Linked DNA regions of Homo sapiens: region 1 is linked to region 2. A link means that fine-mapping ties the variant in region 2 to the expression of a gene that starts in the linked region. Tissue or cell type: fibroblasts. Region 2 holds a variant in brackets; the other region holds the start of a gene. All regions are shown on one strand. Distances are from middle to middle.

Region 1 (10,129 bases), 50 kb before region 2:
ACGTGGTCTTTATAATGCCTCTGACATTGTAGCATGAGAGTGATCATAGATAATATTTAAATGAATGGCCAAGACTGTGTTCCAAAAAAACTTTCTTTACTACACAGGTGGTGGCCCTAGGGCCGTAGGTTGCTGGCCCCTGTTCTGAACCACCGAGAGATACCAGTTCACATGTCCTCAGTTCAGCAATGTGGGGAGAGATGATCGGCTGGATGATGCTATTTTACAGACACCCAGGACCTACAGCATGTTCCAAATGTCTACATCAATAAGTACTTTGAGAGGGTTCATATGAAGTTTCCAGGAAGGATTCCTTCCCAAGTTGTGGAAAGGGTGCATTTCACGACTGAAAGAGGGAGCCCCCTCCCTCACCACACCCTGTGCCCCAGCTCAACTAAGCAGCTTGATTTTCCCCAAACACAGCGCCATTCTTTGCATTAGGCCTTCCTACAGGCTGTTTGCTTTTTATCTAACCCCTCAGGGACAGGGGCTGTGTCTCAGAAACTTGTGCTATGAGCCACCATGTCCCTGGCTTGTCCTTTCAGACCTCCTGGATCCTCACTTTTTCAAGAAAACGTTCACACTTGTCTCAAAGTCTTATTCTTGACTCTGTCATGCTGAGTGGGTTCAATGTCCATTTAGATGGCTGGATTCAATTCTCTGGTCTCTCCTTTTTTGTGTGTTTTTTACTTATAAGAAATCATGAGGCAGGGTGTGGTGGCTCATGCCTGTAATCCCAGCACTTTGGGAGGCTGAGGCCGGCGGATCATGAGGTCAGTAGATCGAGACCATCCTGGCTAACACGGTGAAACCCCGCCTCTACTAGAAATACAAAAAATTAGCCGGGCATGGTGGCAGGCTACTGTAGTCCCAGCTACTCGGGAGGCTGAGGCAGGAGAATGGTGTGAACCCAGGAGGCGGAGGTTGCAGTGAGCTGAGATCACGCTCACTCCATCTGGGTGACAGAGCGAGACTCCGTCTCAAAATAAAAAGATATTATATATTTTGTAAAAGTTTTATTTTTAATTTATACATAAGAATTGCATAGATTTATGGGATAAGTTGTGTAATGATCAAATCAGGGTATTTAGCATATCCATCACCTCAAATTGATGAGAATACTAAATAGCTTCCCTTTTAGATATTTTGTAGTATACACTACAATATTGTTAAATATAGTCACTGCAGTGTGCAATAGGACACCAGAACTTACTCCTCCTATCTAGCTGTAATTTTGCATGCAACCAATCTCTCCCCATTCCTCCCCAGCCTCTAGTAGCCACTATTCTGCTCTTTACTTCTATGAGATCGCCTTTTTTTTTTCTTGAGATGGAGTCTTGCTCTGTTTCCCAGTGCAGTGGCGGGATCTTGGCTTACTGCAACCTCCACCTTCCAGGTTCAAGCAATTCTCCTGCCTCAGCCTCCTGAGTAGCTGGGATTACAGGTGCCCACCACCATGTCCGGCTAATTTTTGTACTTTTAGTAAAGACGGGGTTTTACCATGTTGGCCAGGCTGGTCTCGAACTCCCGACTCAGGTAATCTGCCTGCCTCGGCCTCCCAAAGTGCTGGGATTACAGGCGTGAGCCACCACACCTGGCCATTACACATGATCAACTTTTTTAGATTTCACAAATGGGTGATTTTGTCTTTCTGTGCCTTATTTCACTTAATGTCCTTTAGGTTGATCGTGTTGCTGCAAATGACAGGATTTCATGCTTTTTAATGACAAAATATTATTCCATTATGTGTATATACTGCATTTTCTTTATCCACTCATGTGTTGATGGACACTTAGGATGATTCTGTGTCTTGGCTATTACAAATAATGCTGCAGTCAACATGGGAGTGCATATTTCCCTTTGACATATCCATTTTCTTTGGATACATACCCAGCAGTGAGATTTCTGGGTCATATGCCACTTCTACTTTTAATTTTTTGAGGCATCTCCATACTGTTTTCCATAATGGCTAGATTCGTGTATATACCCACCTAGAGTGTATAAGGGCTCCATTTCTCCATATCTACACCACAATTTGTTATTTTTTCTCTTTAAAAACATTTTTAGATTGAGGTGTACACGTGTAGGTTTGTTACATGGGAGTTAAAACATAATCCTTTCTTTTTCTTTTTCATAAATTGAGACAGGATGTTGCTATGTTGCCCAGGCTGGTCTTGAAGTGCCTTGACCTCCTAAAGTGTTGGAACCACAGACGTGAGCCACTCCACCCAGCCTAAAACTTCATCTTCTTTGGTAAATGTGCTTTCATCTTCAGCATTCCAGACTTAGTACCATCCTCCCAGGCACTTATGTCCTCTTCTTTGCTCTCATCCTTGGCGTCTTGTCCCAAACTGAGTCCTGTCAATTCCACCTCTAAAATAGATCTGTAATATCTTTCCTTTTTCTCTTAGCCACTTTCATGCTGCTGATAAAGACATACCTGAGACTGAGCAATTTACAAAAGCAAGAGGTTTAACAGATTCACAGTTCCACTTGTCTGGGGAGGCCTCACAATCATGGCGGAAGGTGAAAGGCATGTCTCACATGGCAGCAGACAAGAGAAGAGTGAGAGCCAAGTGAAAGGGGTTTCCTCTTATAAAATCATCAGATCTCATGAGACTTATACACTACCATGAGAACAGTATGGGGGAAACTGCCTCCATGATTCAATTGTCTCCCACTGGGTCCCTCCCACAACACAAGGCAATTATGCAAGCTACAATTTGAGATGAGATTTTGGTGGGGACAGAGCCAAATCATATCATTCCACTTCTGACCCCTCCCAAATCTCATGTCCTCACATTTCAAAACCAATCTTGCCTTCCCAACAATCCCCTGAAGTCTCAGGTGCCCCCACCACGCCTGGCTAATTTTTTTGTATTTTTAGTGGAGACGGGGTTTCACTGTGTTAGCCAGGATGTTCTCTATCTCTTGAGCTCGTGATCCGCCTGCCTGGGCCTCCCAAAGTGCTGGGATTACAGGCGTGAGCCACCGTGCCCGGCCGGGGTTTCTTCTTATAAAATCATCAGATCTCTTGAGACTTATTCACTACCAGGAGAACAGTATGGGGGAAACTGCCTCCATGATTCAATTGTCTCCCACTGTGTCCCTCCCACAATGCAAGGGAATTATGGAAGCTACAATTTGAGATGAGATTTCAGTGGAGACACAGCCAAGCCATAGCCCCGTCACTCTAGTCCAACCATCATCTCTCTTCTGGTCTTCTGTGAAGTCTCCCGAGTCACTCTGGCTCACCTCCAATGCAATCAGCAGCCAGGGGACACTTTTTAAAACATAAATCTGACCGTCATGTGCCTGCGGAGTGTCCCGGAGGCTGGATGGAGAACGACCTCCTCAGCTTCTAGGATTCTTAGGGTGGGGACCCAGGTGCAGCAGGTGAGGAGGTGGAAGTCATCATAGAGAGGCAGGGTTTGTGAGAAGCCATTTCGTCTCTGTGGAGCCTTTGCCAGGCAACATGCTGGCTGCTGCCCAGGAGAACCTCCCAGGATGCTAACATGGCCCTCTGGGCTGATGACAGGGTGCTTTTGTAGGTGGAGCTGGGCATCCCCAGATTTCCCCACACTGTAATACCTTTTAATTGTTGGTATGTGCTAGAGCTTGGTGGAAAAAATAAAATGGATGAGTTCCATTTTGGGGGTCAGGATAGAGTTTTTAATGGGTGCATTAGTTCTCTTTTTACCCCAACTCTGCCAACAACCGAGAGGAACCCAGTGTTCTCACACTCCCCTCCCAGAGTTAAAGTTCAGGAACTCCCTGGGTGTCCAAATCTGGACCCTTGCTCACAGTGCCCTGCCTTGTGGTCTCACCATCTCAGTCACAAGTAGAGAAAAACAAAATCTTCTTTTTTTTTTTTTTCAGATGGAGGCTTGCTCTGTGGCCCAGGCTGGAGTACACTGGCATGATCTTGGCTTACTGCAACCTCTCCCTCTTGGTTCAACTGATTCTCCTGCCTCAGCCTCCCGAGTAGCTGGGATTACTGGTGTGTGCCACCATGCCTGGATAATTTTTGTATTTTTAGTAGAGATGGGGTTTCGCCATGTTGGCCAGGCTGGTCCGAACTCCTGACCTCAAGTGATCCACCTGCCTCGGCCTCCCAAAGCGCTGGGATTACAGACGTGAGGCTCTGTGCCCGGCTGAGAATAACAAAATCTTAACCCTCAATGTCTGCACTGGGGATGCAGAGTGAGTGACTTCCAAAAAGTCATAAATACGCTTTAAATCATTCATTTACTCATTCCGTAAACATGTACTGAATACCCCTTATGTGCCATAAGGAATACAGGAGAAAAAAGCCTTTGTTTTTGTTCTCAAGACAACAACAAACCAAAGTGCTGTAGGTGCTATGGTAGAAATATCCACATGTTGCTTGAAACACAAGGAACACACGTCTAACCTGGGGCCCAGCATTGGAAGCCCAGTCCAAATCTTGCTGGGTGAGGTTGTAGGAATTCTTCAGTCATTGACTGATTCAACAAAGATTTACTGAACACTTACAGTGTGCCAGGCTGTTATCTGGGCACTGAAGACTCAGTCTTATAAATGAAGTAGCCAGATTCACAGCTCTCACGGAGCTTGTGTTTGAGTTGTGGTATGGGGAGGGAGCTAAGGCAGGGGATGCAGAAGAAACAGACTGTATACCAGTCAGCCGATAAGCAAGCCATTGATTCCACGTGTTTTACTGAGTGTCTAATATGTATCATGCAGAGTGTTGCATGCTGGTATTATAAAGACGAATGAGACACAGCCCCTGTCCCTGAGGGTTTAGATAAAAAGGAAAGATCCTGTAGGAATGCCTAGTGCAAAGAATGGCGCTGTGTTTGGGGAAAATCAAGCTGTTCAGCTGAGCTGGGGCACAGGGTGTGGTGAGGGAGGGGGCTCCCTCTTTCAGTCATGAAATGCACCCTTTCCACAACTTGGGAAAGAATCCTTCCTGGAAACTTCATATGAACCCTCTCAAAGTACTTATTGATGTAGACATTTGGAACACGCTGTAGGTCCTGGGTGTCTGTAAAATAGCATCATCCAGCCGATCATCTCTCCCCACATTGCTGAACTGAGGACATGTGAACTGGTATCTCTCGGTGGTTCAGAACAGGGGCCAGCAACCTACGGCCCTAGGGCCACCACCTGTGTAGTAAAGAAAGTTTTTTTTTTGGAACACAGTCTTGGCCATTCATTTAAATATTATCTATGATCACTCTCATGCTACAATGTCAGAGGCATTATAAAGACCACGTAGCCCAAAAACCTGTCTGGGTCTGTAAGAAAAAGCTGCCAACCCCTGGTCTAGGCGCTCTGCTTACCTGAAATACAAACCAATAATGAGTTTCTGACACACCAAGTTCAATTCCCTCCCTCCCTTCCTTCCTTCCTTCTTCCTTTTCTTTCTTCCTTCCCTTCCTCCCTTCCTCTTCCCTTCCTCCCTTCCCCTTCTCACTCTCTCTCTCCTTCTCACTCTCTCTCTCTTTCTCTCTCTCTTCCTTCCTTGTTTTCTTACCTAACCCACATTCCCAGAAAATGATGTGAATAAAGACAAGTGTTGGACCTCAATGTGTCAAAGTTAAACTACAACTAGGATCTGCCTTCTGAGGTATGGCAAGAAACAAATTGGTTAATGTTTGCAAAATGCCAGGACATTCTCGAATAAAAGGCCCTATATAAGTTCGGAGTATTTATAATAATTATGATTATTATTATAATTTATGAGATGTCATAAATCTCTCCAAAATAGGATGAGATGAACACTTTTAACAAGAGAACAGGACTCTATATAAATCGCTGTGGGCTCACCACCTCTAAGGAGGAGCACTGACTGAAGACAGGTGAGTGTGAAGCAGAGGCATGGATCTTACACTCGGGCTTATTGAGGATGAAAATCCAGTGTATGGTGATCAGTTGGCAATGATTGTGTCTCTGCTGCATAAGAAATATTGGACTCAGGCGAAACTTAAGGACCTTGCAAAGAAAACCCAAGTTTGAAAAGATTTGTAGATGATAGAATAATTTTTCCTGTTCATTACAACACTCATCAAAATTTAGATATCTTTTAATGCAAGTATGTCATTACTTTTGGATTTGTGAGCATGTGCAAATCGAATAATGGGAGAAAAGAAATGTGTGTGCACTTAACTGTAGCTGTAATAGGGCCAAATGCGACGTCATATTTGTTAACTGAAAGCCAAAAGACTAAGGTGTTTGTATTTTGCCAGACGGTAAATCCCTTGCCTGCCCTCATGGGCAGTCTTGCCAATGCTACATTAACCCATAGACCATGAGTATTGGTTCTATAACAATCTTATTTTCTCTGCAAGCTGTGTAAGAACTAAGGCCAACATGTCTAACAGCCTCGGCTAACAGACTAAAAAGACAGATACGCCTCTAGAGTCCATAGACGGAACAGAGGGGCCAAGTCTCCCTGATTTGCTCTGTGCAGAAGGAAACGTTCACGGGGAAATCTCCAGCATAGGATGATCCTTCCTGGAGTTCTGAACTCTCAAAAACGCAAATGGGAAAAGCAGGCACAGAGGACGCACTGAGAGAAGGAACTCCCTTCCAGCTCACAGTGTCTCTATGCAGGGAAGATTTGCCTGCCCAGAGGGAAGAAAATGATCAAACTTTCAGAGGTCTTCTAGGCTGGTAATTATTGATTACAATCCAAATTCAGTGAATAGGTATTTTCACAGGCCATGTGAAGGTGCAGCTCTACGCAGCGTAACAGCTTAAAATGAGCCTTCCTGTTGCTGCCCTATATTTTTGCTCTAAAAAGTTGTATTTTTCTCAAAAAAAAAAAGATCTTAGTGGCAGAATAATTTTATATTATTTTATATTTGTGACTACATTGCTATTACTATTTTAATTTTAGGCCTGTTGGTGCATAGCAATCTGTGAGGCAATGGGCTGGAGTGTTGCTGTACGTGCATGTGTGTGTGTGTACGTGTGTGTGTGTACGTGTGTGTGTATATATGTAGGGAGGGAGAAGATTAGAATAGCAAGAAGAGGATGAGTACGACATGATGCTACTGGTAAGGCCTTTAAGAAATTTAAAAACTTAAACATTTTAAAAATGGAATAAAATAAATATTTAAAAATTTTAAAAAAACAAAAATTAAAAAAATTAAAAAGTTAAAATAATAAAAAATTAAAAATAATTTTAAAACAGGCCAGGTGTTGGTGGTTCCCAGCACTTTGGGAGGCTGAGGCAGGCAGATTGCTTGAGCCCTGGAGTTTGAGACCAGCCTGGCCAACATGGCGAAACCCCGTCTTTACTAAAAATACAAAAATTAGCTGGGCGTGGTGGCACAGGGCTGTAATCCCAGCTACTCAGGAGGCTGAGGCAGGAGAATCACCTGAGCTCAGGCAGGTCGAGGGTGCAGTGAGCCGAGATCACAGCACTTCACTCCAGCCTAGGTGACAGTCAGACTATGTTTTGAAAAAAAAAAAATTAAAACAATTTTAAAAATTAAAGAGTAATCTAATGAGACATTCTTACAGGCTTATAATGGTGAGATGATTCCACAATTTTGGGCCACTGCACTCCCACCTGGGAGACAGAGTGAGACCTTGTCTCGATTAAAAAAAAAAAAAAAAGAAAAAAAGAAAAAGAAAAAGAAAAAACAAAAAGAAAAGAAAAAGAAAAAAACCCAGGGGCTGGGCGCGGTGGCTCATGCCTATGATCCCAGCATTTTGGGAGGCTGAGGTGGGTGGATCACCTGAGGTCAGGAGTTCTCAACCAGCCTGGCCAACATGGTGAAACCCCATCTCTACTAAAAATACAAAAATTAGCTGGGCGTGGAGTGCCTGTAGTCTCAGCTACTCAGGAGGCTGAGGCAAGATAATCACTTGAATTCAAGAGGCGGAGGTTGCATTGAGCTGAGATCGCACCACTGCACTCCAGCCTGGGCGACAGAGTGAGACTTTGTCTCAAACAAAACAAAGCAAAACCCAACAAAACAAAAAGTAATTAAAATTAAAATTAAAAAATTAAAAAAAGAAAGGCCTGTTGGCACACAATGAGTAGGTAGACACAGAGACATGTTAGCAATAAACAAGGGTGACAACACAGCTTAGAGCAGGAGACCATGCCTAATGTGGATGCATACAGGAGTTCTCAGTTCTCTCAGGATTAGATGGGGACACCACAATGGGGCAGGGGCACCTTCATTGGGCACGTTGAGGTGTTAATACGTCACATTTCTGGGCTGGATGGAGGGCCCCAATGACCTGCAATGATACTGTTCAAGGTAAAGATTGAGAGCATTCATGGAAAAGTTTCTAAGGTGAGAAAACCATAAGACCAAAGATACCTGTTTCTACCTTTTCTAGAAAAATTGATGAACTGAAGAAGACATGGTCCATTATGCCTTACAAACTTACACAGTGCTTTGGGAATTCCAAAGTACTCAGTGGAGAGAGGGTGAGTAGAGGAAGATGTCCCCATCAAAGCCACCAGGAACATGAGGTAGCTCCTGAGGGATGCTCTGGTTGTCAGTTTCCAGTGTGCCTGGCAGGCCTGTTGCCCCAGCTTGTTGACACCCCCTTGCTGTTTGTTACTATTTTGCTCTCTGGGAAGGGAGAAGAGGGATGCTACCATAAACATTGTGCTTGACATCATGACCACTGTGCTGCCTTGGTCTGACATCTTCATAATGGTTTTAAGCAGGGAGCCACAGGGGAATTAACAAATGAGTCATAGGGAACTGACAGACACTCTTTGAGCACACCCGAGTGATGTCTCAACAATCTCTTCTAAACACAGAGTACTTTTCGTCACTTGTAAAGTTGGGCCATAGAGTTTGGGTTGCTTCAATATGCTGTATTTATGGACAAAATGACATTGTTCATCCATTTAAGAATTCCAAGCTAGGTGTGGTGGCTTGAGCCTGTAACCCTACCTACTCAGGAAGCTGAGGTGGAAGGATCACTTGAAGCCTGGAGTTCAAGACCAGCCTGGGCAACATAGTGAGACCCATTTCTACATAAAAACTAAAAAATTATCTGGGCATGGTGGCATACACCTCTAGCCCCAGCTACTTGGGAGGCTAAGGTGGGAGTATCACTTGAGCCCAGGAGGTCAAGGCTGCAGTGAGCCGTGATCGTGCCATTGCACTCCAGCCTGGGTGACAGAGTAAAACTCTGGCTCTAAGAAAAAAAAGAAAAATTCCATTGTCACTTCTTGCTCTTCCCTGATGAAATTGAAAAACTTTACCTTGATGACCTGGTCCCAGGAGCAACTAGAAAGTAATTCTGTGTTCCCATTAAGTGGCACATGTATTTACATAGACTCTTTCATTAAAGTGACTTCTCAACACAGATATTTAGTTCCAAGCATGGAAAATACGGTAGCTCTCCTGTTACAATAAAAGCTGAGTCCTTCCACTTGGGTTTCCAAGAGGAAGTATTTTTTCTTTCCTGGAAAAGCAGCAAAAAGAGTGAAATACCCTGGGTGGAGCATTTGAATGTGAGCAGTGCTTTTTCCTGAAGGGTCCTTCCATAAAGCCAGTGATGCACTTTCATGAGACCATGAGCTTTTCCTATACCCAAGCAGCTCTTTGTCCATTCTTTTCTCCTGGGATTGGTTGTCCTCTCTTGTTTACTGCTGGAGGCTCAGGATGCTGAATAAATGACTCCTGTTGGGTGATTAAATCTGAGCGTTCCTGCAGACCCAGCTAAGATTCCAGGTCCCTGAATCTTTTTGGTGTTGGGACTGACCATGACATTTTGTGCTCAACTAAGCAAAATCGGACAGACCATCTCAATGTTGTAGAGAGAATAACAAAAAGCATGACTGCAACTGAAGGGCATATGCCCCCTCAGTTTAAGAAGACAGAAATCGAATAACTTCCTTTTTCTTTTTTGAGACAGGCTCTTGCTCTGTTTCCCAGGATGGAGTGCAGTGGTGTGATCATAGCTCACTGCACCCTTGACCCTCTGGGCTCAAGCAGTCCTCCTGCCTCAGCCTCCCAAGTAGCTAGGACTACAGGTGTATGCCACCACACCTGGCTTCAAATGACTTCCTTAAAGCCTCTCCATCTTGAGATGTGATCTCTTCCTGGGTGTTTGAAAGAAACAACCCATAAGGTTAACCTCAAAACAAAAGAGATGAGAGAAG
Region 2 (10,129 bases):
GTCAAATAAATGTTCAATTGTTCTCTCACAGCTTGAGTGAACAGAACAATCCACATCAGTTTGAAAACAATTTTGGTTGAGTTGCAGAAGCCTGGACATTAAGGACCTCATACCTAGAAGGACTCGTAGCCCCACTAACTGAGAGCAGAAGGATAAGTATTCTTCACATTCAACAGTGCTTTAAATGTTTTATTAACAATGTCTTCTTCCAGTGCATGTAGGGAGAGCCCCAGCCTCCACCTACTCTCTTTTACCTAACTTATCATTCGTAACTTCTTAATCTCCCTTTCTTGAGCTTTCTCATTGCACTTAGCCTGGAAGCCTCAGGTAAGTGGCTCTACTCACCCTGCAGTGAAGTGGGTCACGGGCACAATGTCGCTGGGTCATAGACTATGGGTTTCTAAGGCCTGCCTCAGGGCAGTTAGACTCCTGCAATATCCCTTATTCAAGAGTGGTCCTGACTGCAGTGTTGATGGTGGTGGAGCAGACCCTCCATGGGTCACTTTCCTGAGAGTCAGGTAGGAATCATCCATTGGCTCAGAACAGCCCTGCCACTCTTCCAGGGATGGAAGGCTAGAGGCCATGCCAGAGACGTCTGTTCTACAAGCAGGAAGGCAGGCAGGGCAGAAGTGAATGCCAGTGGACTGTGCAGACCTCAGCTTGGGGAGGGCATGTTCTCCTGGGAGTGGAGGTGGTTTTATTGCCAGGGAGCTGGGAAGTTGCCTGTGGTTTTGTCTTCCTGTTCCCTGTACAGCTGCCTTCCACCTTTCTTCACTCAGTGGATGTGGGGGAGGACTGTGTGCAGTCTGAGAAACTGGACACGCTTGTGGAAGGACCCAGACCAGACTTCTTCCTCCCCTCAGCGCAATGTGCTTTGCCTGTTTCAAGAACGTCCCTTCCATTTCCTGTTCCTGGGGCTGCACAATATGCTTCCTCTCTTCCTTTGGACATAAGCCTGAAGAAAGATACTCTCTTCTTGAAGAAGTTTTCATCCCTGGCTATAATCTTTTTTCCCATATCCTTAGCAAGTATGGGCAAATGAGCACTCACGTTGCTACTCCCTGGTTTTGCATTGATCTCCTAGAGCAGGTGGCCACACTTGCACCTTTTTCTCAGAAGTGGGATTGGAGTAAGGAGCCAAGTTCACCTATCATGATCATGTGACATAGTGGTTTGAGATCATGTGACATACTGGTACGGGGATCATATGACATTGGAATGGGAACAAAAAGCAGGAGACCCAATATTTCAGGTAAATAACCAATCCAAGAATAAAAATTGCTAGTATTTCCTGTTATCCTTTTAAAGTGAATTATCTGTTTCTTATTCGCAAATTTAGAAGCTGTTTGGCACAATTTTAGATATCTAGAAACAATCTATCAAAATATGCCTCCTGAGCAACTTGGGGGTTCATTAGGTTAATTAATTAATAGTGGTTAATAAGCCCTTTGAAATCCTCTTATTAATTGGGTCACCTAAGTCCTAAGTACTATTATAACCAGGCCTAATGAGGTCAATGGTTTAAAGAGAGGGTTTTAAACCATATATAAAGCTCCTCTAATGATCATTGGTACAGGACGAAGGTAAGAAAAGCCAGGTGAGTCTTCATGCTGGTGTTTAAAAGTTTCCTCCACAGCAGTAGAGCCACGCTGATGTCTACTCTGTTGAAGCCAGGTGCGCAGTGATCTACTGACTAATGGATTCTCCAATTGTTAAGCCTATGTTACAGGACAAAGGCCGTCGCTTTGTAAAAGCTTGAAGTGCAGTTTGCTGCTGAGTACAGAAGACCTTTGCAAACAGAGAGGGGAGATTTTCTCTGTAAGGTTGCAAACAAGGTTAGTGCTGGCCTTCTTATGTCTTGTAAAACTTATAAGCTACCATTTGAATGAAACCAAGAATAGAGTTGATTGAGGAAGAAATGGAGCAGAGGAAACCTCTTCTAAGTCACGTTCTCATGCTCCTGTTGGTATTTTGTTTTATTTTGTTTTCCCTACGGAGACCCTGGTATAAGAATGGAAACACCCAGGCATGGTGGCACGCATATGTCGCCCCAGCTACTCAGGAGGCTGAGGTGGGAGGATCGCTTGAGCCCAGGAGTTTGAGGCCATAGTGAGCTATGATTATGCCACTGCACTCCAGCCTGGGTGACAGAGCAAGATCCCATTTCTAAATAAATGAATGAAAGACCAAAACTGATCCTTGAAGCCAGGGGTAGGGTGAATAACTAGAATGAAAAGATCAGTATTTTTTTTTTTAAAAAGAAAGGGAACAAAATTGTGGTGTTACCAAGCTTAGAGGTGGGATGGGAGTGTATATTTAGTTACATATGTAAGATACGCATGACTCATGTCAATATGAAATTGGATTGAAGTGAGATTAGGAGTTTATGCTTAAGAAAGAGAGTGTGCCAACAAACTATGTACTGAGCCTGTGAGAATACTATCTTGAAACAGGGAAATGAGTAGTGAATTGGAAATAACTCTAAACTTTTTAAAATATCAAAGCAAATTTTTCTTTAGGAAATTTTCAGGTTTTAAAATTAACCAGTTTCTATTTCAAATCAGAGCAGGTCCTGGAAGATAAGATTCCCCGCCATGTTATCCTCCGTGGTGTTTTGGGGACTAATTGCCCTCATTGGTAAGTCACTGGCTGAGATTTAGCATTGTTCACAGGGTGTCCACAAAAACCTCCAGCACAATCATGAATCAGAAAGAGCAATGATTACCTGTAATGGAAGAGTGGGCTCTCATTCTGACCAGCTTGGCCATTAATCAACTATTATTTCTATAATTAACAGTGTGTTCTGCTTGCTAAGCAGGTGAAAAACAGGATCTATGGGAATTTCAAATAATCTAATATTTATTGATCTGCTTACTTCCTGTCTGACAATGCACCTATCAGGCTGGATACCTTACCGAGAGGTATATGGAACAGTGCCTTGGAAGCAAAACACATGAAGAGACAATTATCAATGCCAAGCAGTGGATGAGAGTTCAATGTGTATAGGTGGGAAAAAAGCACTAGTCTGGGAAAGGTTTGGGAGGAAGAGCTCACATCCAACTAGAATGCTCAGATGTGAAAGGCTTTTGGGGGGGACATGTCAATTGAAGGATGCTTGGTGATTTAATAAGAAAAAGGAAGAGCCTGCTGGATGGGAAGAAAGATTTCAGTAAAAAAGCAGAGGCAGAAATGAATGAAAAGTCTTTGGGTCAGTGTGGTCTGGACAGACGAGGGGGTTTCTGGGGGGAAGGCTGGAAAGATAGGTTGGTAAGTTGGTAAGGGATCTTGAATAAGAGAATGTGAAAACTCTGACCTAAGCAAAATGAAAAGCCATTATGAGCAATGTTCAAGTTGTCTTTAATTATAGAATGGTGACTGAAAGGAAAGTGTTTCTAAAATGTTTAATTCTAAATTTGGAAAAACAAGGCTACCCGAAAGTAATTTCCAGTTACTTATGGTCAAAACAGGGCAACATAGTTTTAAATTTTTACTCTTTTTAGATTGCCAGGTGAGAGCAGAGTTAAATAGCCAGTAGATTAATTATGAGCTACCATATTAGCTGTGTATAGCTGAAAGGTGACTCTTAATTTAAAAAGGGCTTGTGTGTTTATAAGGCCTACACAGGCAGCGTAGGGTCCATGGTCATATTCCAGTTCCCTTAAAGCAGTGGTTCATAAACATGTGTAAGAGTCAACTGGGAATGCTGGGTAAAAGGCAGCTTCTTTCGCCTTATACTGCAAGATTTTGGTGCAGTAGATCTGGTGTGAAAAGCCCAGTGATAAGCCTTTTTTTTTTTTTTTTTTTTTGAGACAGAGTCTTGCTCTGTCGCCCAGGCTGGAGAGTGCAGTGGTGCGATCTCAGCTCACTGCAAGCTCTGCCTCCTGGGTTCATACCATTCTTCTGCCTCAGCCTCCCAAGTAGCTGGGACTACAGGCGCCCACCATCATGCCCAGCTAATTTTTTTGTATTTTTAGTAGAGACAGGGTTTCACTGTGTTACCCAGGATGGTCTTGATCTCCTGACCTCGTGATCCGTCCGCCTTGGCCTCCCAAAGTGCTGGGATTATAGGTGTGAGCCACCACGCCCGGCCCAGTGATAAGCATTTTTAATAAGCTTCCTGGGTAACTTTGATGCCTGTGGTCTGTGGGCCACACAGTGAGCCTGGCAAAGACTGCCTCCCAGTGAAAGGATACTGAACCTGTCAATATAAGGACACTTGATCCAGATAATTTAAACAATCCCTTTCTGTCTCATTCCTTCATCCATCCAACTATCCATTCTTCCATTCAGCAAATGTTTATTAAATGTCTACTTTGTGCCAAGCATTGTTCCAGGTGCTGAGGAGGATATAGCAGAGAAAAACATCTAGTATCTGACCTAATGAAATTTATCTTCTAGTGAGAGGAACGAACAGTAAGAGAGTGAGAGGAAAAAGGGAAGAGAGAGGGAAAGAGTGAGAGGAAGGGAGGGAGATAAAAACATTTCACCTGTAAAAATTTTTGGGCTGGGCACGGTGGCTCACACCTGTAATCCCTGCACTTTGGGAGGCCGAGGCAGGCGGATCAAGAGGTCAGGAGATTGAGACCATCCTGGCTAACACAGTGATACACCATCTCTACTAAAAATACAAAAAATTAGCCAGGTGTGGTGGCAGGCACCTGTAGTCCCAGCTACTTGGGAGGCTGAGGCAGGAGAATGGCATGAACTTGGGAGGCGGAGCTTGCAGTGAGATAAAAACATTTCACCTGTAAAAATTTTTGGGCTGGGCACGGTGGCTCACACCTGTAATCCCTGCACTTTGGGAGGCCGAGGCAGGCGGATCAAGAGGTCAGGAGATTGAGACCATCCTGGCTAACACAGTGATACACCATCTCTACTAAAAATACAAAAAATTAGCCAGGTGTGGTGGCAGGCACCTGTAGTCCCAGCTACTTGGGAGGCTGAGGCAGGAGAATGGCCACTGCACTCCAGCCTGGGCGACAGAGTGAGACTCCATCTGGAAAAAAAAATTTTTTTTTTTAATGTGTCTCTAACATATAAGGACCAGCTCTGGCACAAAAAGATGTTCCTGGTTCATCTTGAACATTTCCTGCCCCAGGCAGGCAATCAGCCATTATTCTGAGGAGCGCTGGTTCCACTTAGCAGGAAATGGTATTTAGAGACCACAGTGTGGGAAGTAAAAGTGCTCCATTGCTATGGAGCTGTCGTTTATTTCAGGTGTTTTCAGTGGCAGGAACTAGAAAATATATATTTTTAAAAGGAAAACAACTATGCATTCAGATATTTCACATTTATATTTAAGAATGCAAGCATTTTACATCAGTTTTATATTTGTACCTCTGCTATCTTACACTAAAAATCCTAGTTCTAATGACATTAGCATTATTACTTATTTACATACAATAGTGTCAAAATAAGTATGACAGTATTACCAACCAACAATGAGACAGTAAATATAATTTAAGATTTTCTTGTGATTATTTATGTTCACAGGATGGATTCCTATGTAGTGGTATAGACTTATATGGATATATTTTAAAGTCACTTAAGATAATTCTCCTCTATGTGTTTATTAATCTTTCAATTTGTTATAGAGTTATGTTCATTTGTTCTTCTTTTTTATGATTCCATTTTTCCCCATTTGATTTAATTTTAAAATTTATGATAACATTTACATGGTTCCAAAATAAAAACTTTAAAAAAGATAGTTAGTCTATCCCCTATCCCTGTTCCCTTTACCTTCCTCTTACTCTCTCCATAACTAACAATTTTTATCAGTTTTTCATTCATCCTTGTATTGTTTCTTTTGAAAATATGAGCAAATCACACAAAATATACGATTGTATTTTCTTACCTTTCTTACACAAAGAGTACAATTCTATAAATACTATTTTGTCCCTGGAGAGAATTTTACAGGAGTATATACAGGTCTTATTCTTTCCTTTTGCAGCTGCATAGTGCTCCACTGTGGACGTAGCATCACTTACTCAACCAGTCCCTAAATTAATGACATTTGTGTTGTTTGCAGTCCTTTGCTCTTATCAACAGTGCTGGAATGAACAGCCTATCACAAAACTGTGTTCCACAGCAATGTGTGTGACAGCCTATTTCCTCACAACCTCTCCCACAGAGGGTATTGCCAAACCTTTGGGCTCTTGCCAACTAAAGAGTTGGAAAATGCAGCCAGGCGTGGTGGCTCACGCCTGTAATCCCAGCACTTTGGGAGGCCAAGGTGGGCGGATCACAAGGTCAGCAGATCGAGACCATCCTGGCTAACATGCTGAAACCCCGCCTCTACTAAAAATACAAAAAATTAGCCGGGTGTG[A/G]TGGCAGGCGCCTGTAGTCCCAGCTGCTGGGGAGGCTGAGGCAGGAGAATGGCATGAACCCAGGAGGCGGAGCTTGCAGTGAGCCATGATCGCACCACTGTACTGCAGCCTGGGCGACAGAGCAAGACTCTGTCTCAAAAAAAAAAAAAAAAAAAGAGTTGGAAAATGCTGTTATAATGATGTTTTAATGTGGCCTTTCTCTTCTTTTGAGTGTGGTTTAACGTCTTTTATATGTTTAAGGACTATTTTCTTTTTTTGTCTATAAACTCGCTATATATTCTGCTGATAAGGTGATATTTGGACAGAGACCTGAAGGCATGATCATGTAGATACCAGGAGGAATAGCATTCTAGGCAAAAGGGACCACAAACATACAGGCTTTGAGGCAGAAACCTGCCTGGCATGTTGAAGGATAAGCACAAAGAAGAATGTGGCTGGAGGAGAGTGAACAAAGGGAAAGAGAAGTAGGAACAGGAGCAGAGGGCCACATCTAGTAGGTCTTGGAGGCTGCAGGATGGACTTGGCTATTCCCCTAAAGGAGGAGAAAGCCACTGGAAGGTTAAGAGAGAAGACTGATAGCAGCCCATGCATATTCCCACAGGGCCACTCCGTCTACTAAGTAGAGGATGGGCTGCAAGAGTGAATCAGGGAGGTCAGTTAGAAGGCTGTTAGGAGAGTCCAGATGAGCAATGATGCTGGCTGGGACTATGGCAGAAGCAGAGGTGGGAGAAGTGGTTAGATTCTTTTTTTTTTTTTTTTTTTTTTTTGAGACAGAGTTTCGCTCTTTTTGCCCAGGCTGGAGTGCAATGGCGCGATCTCGGCTCACTGCATCCTCCTCCTCCTGGGTTCAAGCGATTCTTCTGCCTCAGCCTCCCGAGTAGCTGGGATTACAGGCATGCACCACCATGCCTGGCTAATTTTGTATTTTTAGTAGAGATGGGTTTCTCCGTGTTGGTCAGACTGGTCTTGAACTCCCGACCTCAGGTGATCCGCCTGCCTTGGCCTCCCAAAGTGCTGGGATTACAGGTGTGAGCCACCACGCCCAACCAGATTCTATTTTTTTTACATCAAACATTTTAACAAAATCCTTTTTTTTTTTTTTGAGATTTGAGACAGGGTCTTGTTCTGTTGCCCAGGCTGGAGTGCAGTGGCACCATCAAAGCTCACTGCAGCCTCGACCTCCCGGGTTCAATCAATCTTCCTGTCTCAGTCTCCCATGCAACTGGGACTACAGGCATGTGCCACTACACCAGGCTAATTTTTGTATTTTTTGTAGAAATGAGTTTTGCCATGTTGCATAGGCTGGTCTCAAACTCCTACGCTCAAGCAATCGTCCTGCCTCAGCCTCTCAAAGTGCTGGGATTCTAGGCATAAGCCACAACATCCAGCCCTAAGTACTGTCTTATAACAAATATTTGGACTCTTAAGGTACAAGTTAACAGTCCTTGAAACCGTTAGAACAAACTTTTCAACATTACAGAAAATAACTTTGTATCTCCTTTAGCAAAAGCTCTGCCTCTCCTGTAACAGGTAGACTTGGACAGAAATTCACTTTTTAATGACAGAACAAAAAGACAAGAATAGATTTGACTTAAATTATTTTGGCAAATTCAATTTTTACTTCTAATTTTATTAAATATACATAGGAACTCAACTTCACAGTAAATGATATATAATAAGAATATATTTAAATTGTTATGGTGCCCTTCTTTCTTATCTTTCTAAACAAAGGCAAATTGGTTTTTTTTGAATTTTATTTATTTATTTTTATTTTATTTTATTTTATTTTATTATTATTATACTTTAAGTTTTAGGGTACATGTGCACAATGTGCAGGTTAGTTACATATGTATACATGTGCCATGCTGGTGTGCTGCACCCATTAACTCGTCATTTAGCATTAGGTATATCTCCTAATGCTATCCCTCCCCCCTCCCTCCACCCCACAACAGTCCCCAGAGTGTGATGTTCCCCTTCCTGTGTCCATGTGTTCTCATTGTTCAATTCCCACCTATGAGTGAGAACATGTGGTGTTTGGTTTTTTGTCCTTGGTGATAGTTTACTGAGAATGATGATTTCCAATTTCATCCATGTCCCTACAAAGGACATGAAGTCATCATTTTTTATGGCTGCATAGTATTCCATGGTGTATATGTGCCACATTTTCTTAATCCAGTCTATCATTGTTGGACATTTGGGTTGGTTCCAAGTTTTTGCTATTGTGAATAGTGCCGCAATAAACATACGTGTGCATGTGTCTTTATAGCAGCATGATTTATAGTCCTTTGGGTATATACCCAGTAATGGGATGGCAGGGTCAAATGGTATTTCTAGTTCTAGATCCCTGAGGAATCGCCACACTGACTTCCACAATGGTTGAACTAGTTTACAGTCCCACCAACAGTGTAAAAGTGTTCCTATTTCTCCACATCCTCTCCAGCACCTGTTGTTGCCTGACTTTTTAATGATTGCCATTCTAACTGGTGTGAGATGGTATCTCATTGTGGTTTTGATTTGCATTTTTCTGATAGCCAGTGATGGTGAGCATTTTTTCATGTGTTTTTTGGCTGCATAAATGTCTTCTTTTGAGAAGTGTCTGTTCATGTACTTCGCCCACTTTTTGATGGGGTTGTTTGTTTTTTTCTTGTAAATTTGTTTGAGTTCATTGTAGATTCTGGATATTAGCCCTTTGTCAGATGAGTAGGTTGCGAAAATTTTCTCCCATTTTGTAGGTTGCCTGTTCACTCTGATGGTAGTTTCTTTTGCTGTGCAGAAGCTCTTTAGTTTAATTAGACCCCATTTGTCAATTTTGGCTTAAGAAAGGCAAATTGTTAATCTAGATGTTCACATCTCCAGAGGCATTTGTGTCAGAAATGTTTTAAAATTCCTCTCAAAACAATAGACACTGGGGACTGTAAAAGGAAGGAGGGAGGGAGGAAGGTAGGGAGGCAAGGGTTGAAAACTACACATCAGGTACTGTGTTCACTATTTGGGTGAAGGATCAATAGAAGGCCAATCCTCAGCATCACACAATATGCCCACGTAACAAACCTGCACATGTACCCCCTGAATCTTAAAAAAAAAAAAAAAACTCTCAAGTTTCCTGCTTAAAAACCTGTCAGTTTTAATTCTGACATAGAGCATGGTATGACTACAGTGCCTGTAATCCCAGCACTTTGGGAGGCCAAGGAGAGAGGATCGCTTGAGCACAGGAGTTTGAGACTAGCTTGGGCAACATAGCAAAACCCCATCTCTACAAAAAGAGAAAATAAGCCAGTCCTGGTGATATGCACCTGTGGTTCCAGCTACTCAGGAGGCTGGGGTGGGAGGATAGTTTGAGCCCAGGTGTTGGTGCCTGCAGCGAGCTATGATCATGCCACTGCACTCCAGCCTGGACAACAGAGCAAGACCTTGTCTCTTAAAAAAAGGAAAAAAAAAGACTGCACATGTATTTAGGATCTATAAGAGATGAATTTCATAATATTTTGCATAGAGTTTTCAGATTACGTCCTGTGTTAATACAAAACAAAACAAAAGATCGGAGCAGAGTGGGCATGGGGAACTTCTGTCTGAGGAACAAATAATGGCAACAAGAGAGTTGGGGAGTTCTGTCTGTGGCCTTCTGCCTTTGGTTTAGTGATGTTTATTGCAGCAACCCAAGTAATATCTTCTCAGAGGATTCATGTGAGTTACACTTCTGCCTCCTAGGCACTTCCAGGGGCTCATACCCCTTCAGTCACTCAATGAAGCCTCACCTACATCCACGCCTGTACCACGGCTGCTATGGGGACATCATGACCATG

Evidence for each region. PIP is the estimated chance that this variant, and not a neighbour inherited with it, causes the effect.
Region 1: LYG1 starts here. The variant in region 2 is fine-mapped to the expression of LYG1 in fibroblasts (GTEx, PIP 0.98).

Annotation. Positions count from the first base shown.
Region 1 is chr2:99,296,764-99,306,892 of GRCh38, reverse strand. LYG1 (lysozyme g1) reads left to right here and starts at 5,696. Exons shown (of 7, transcript NM_174898.3): 1 at 5,696-5,843; 2 at 8,344-8,434. All of the region lies in intron 1 of LOC107985923 (a long non-coding RNA gene), which reads right to left. It also overlaps a transcript of TXNDC9 not described here.
Region 2 is chr2:99,246,726-99,256,854 of GRCh38, reverse strand. It overlaps LYG2 (lysozyme g2), which reads left to right and starts at 1,189. Exons shown (of 7, transcript NM_175735.4): 1 at 1,189-1,252; 2 at 1,718-1,835; 3 at 2,570-2,637; 4 at 10,035-10,129. The coding sequence starts at 2,595. The variant A/G (reference allele first, on the strand shown) is at 6,327.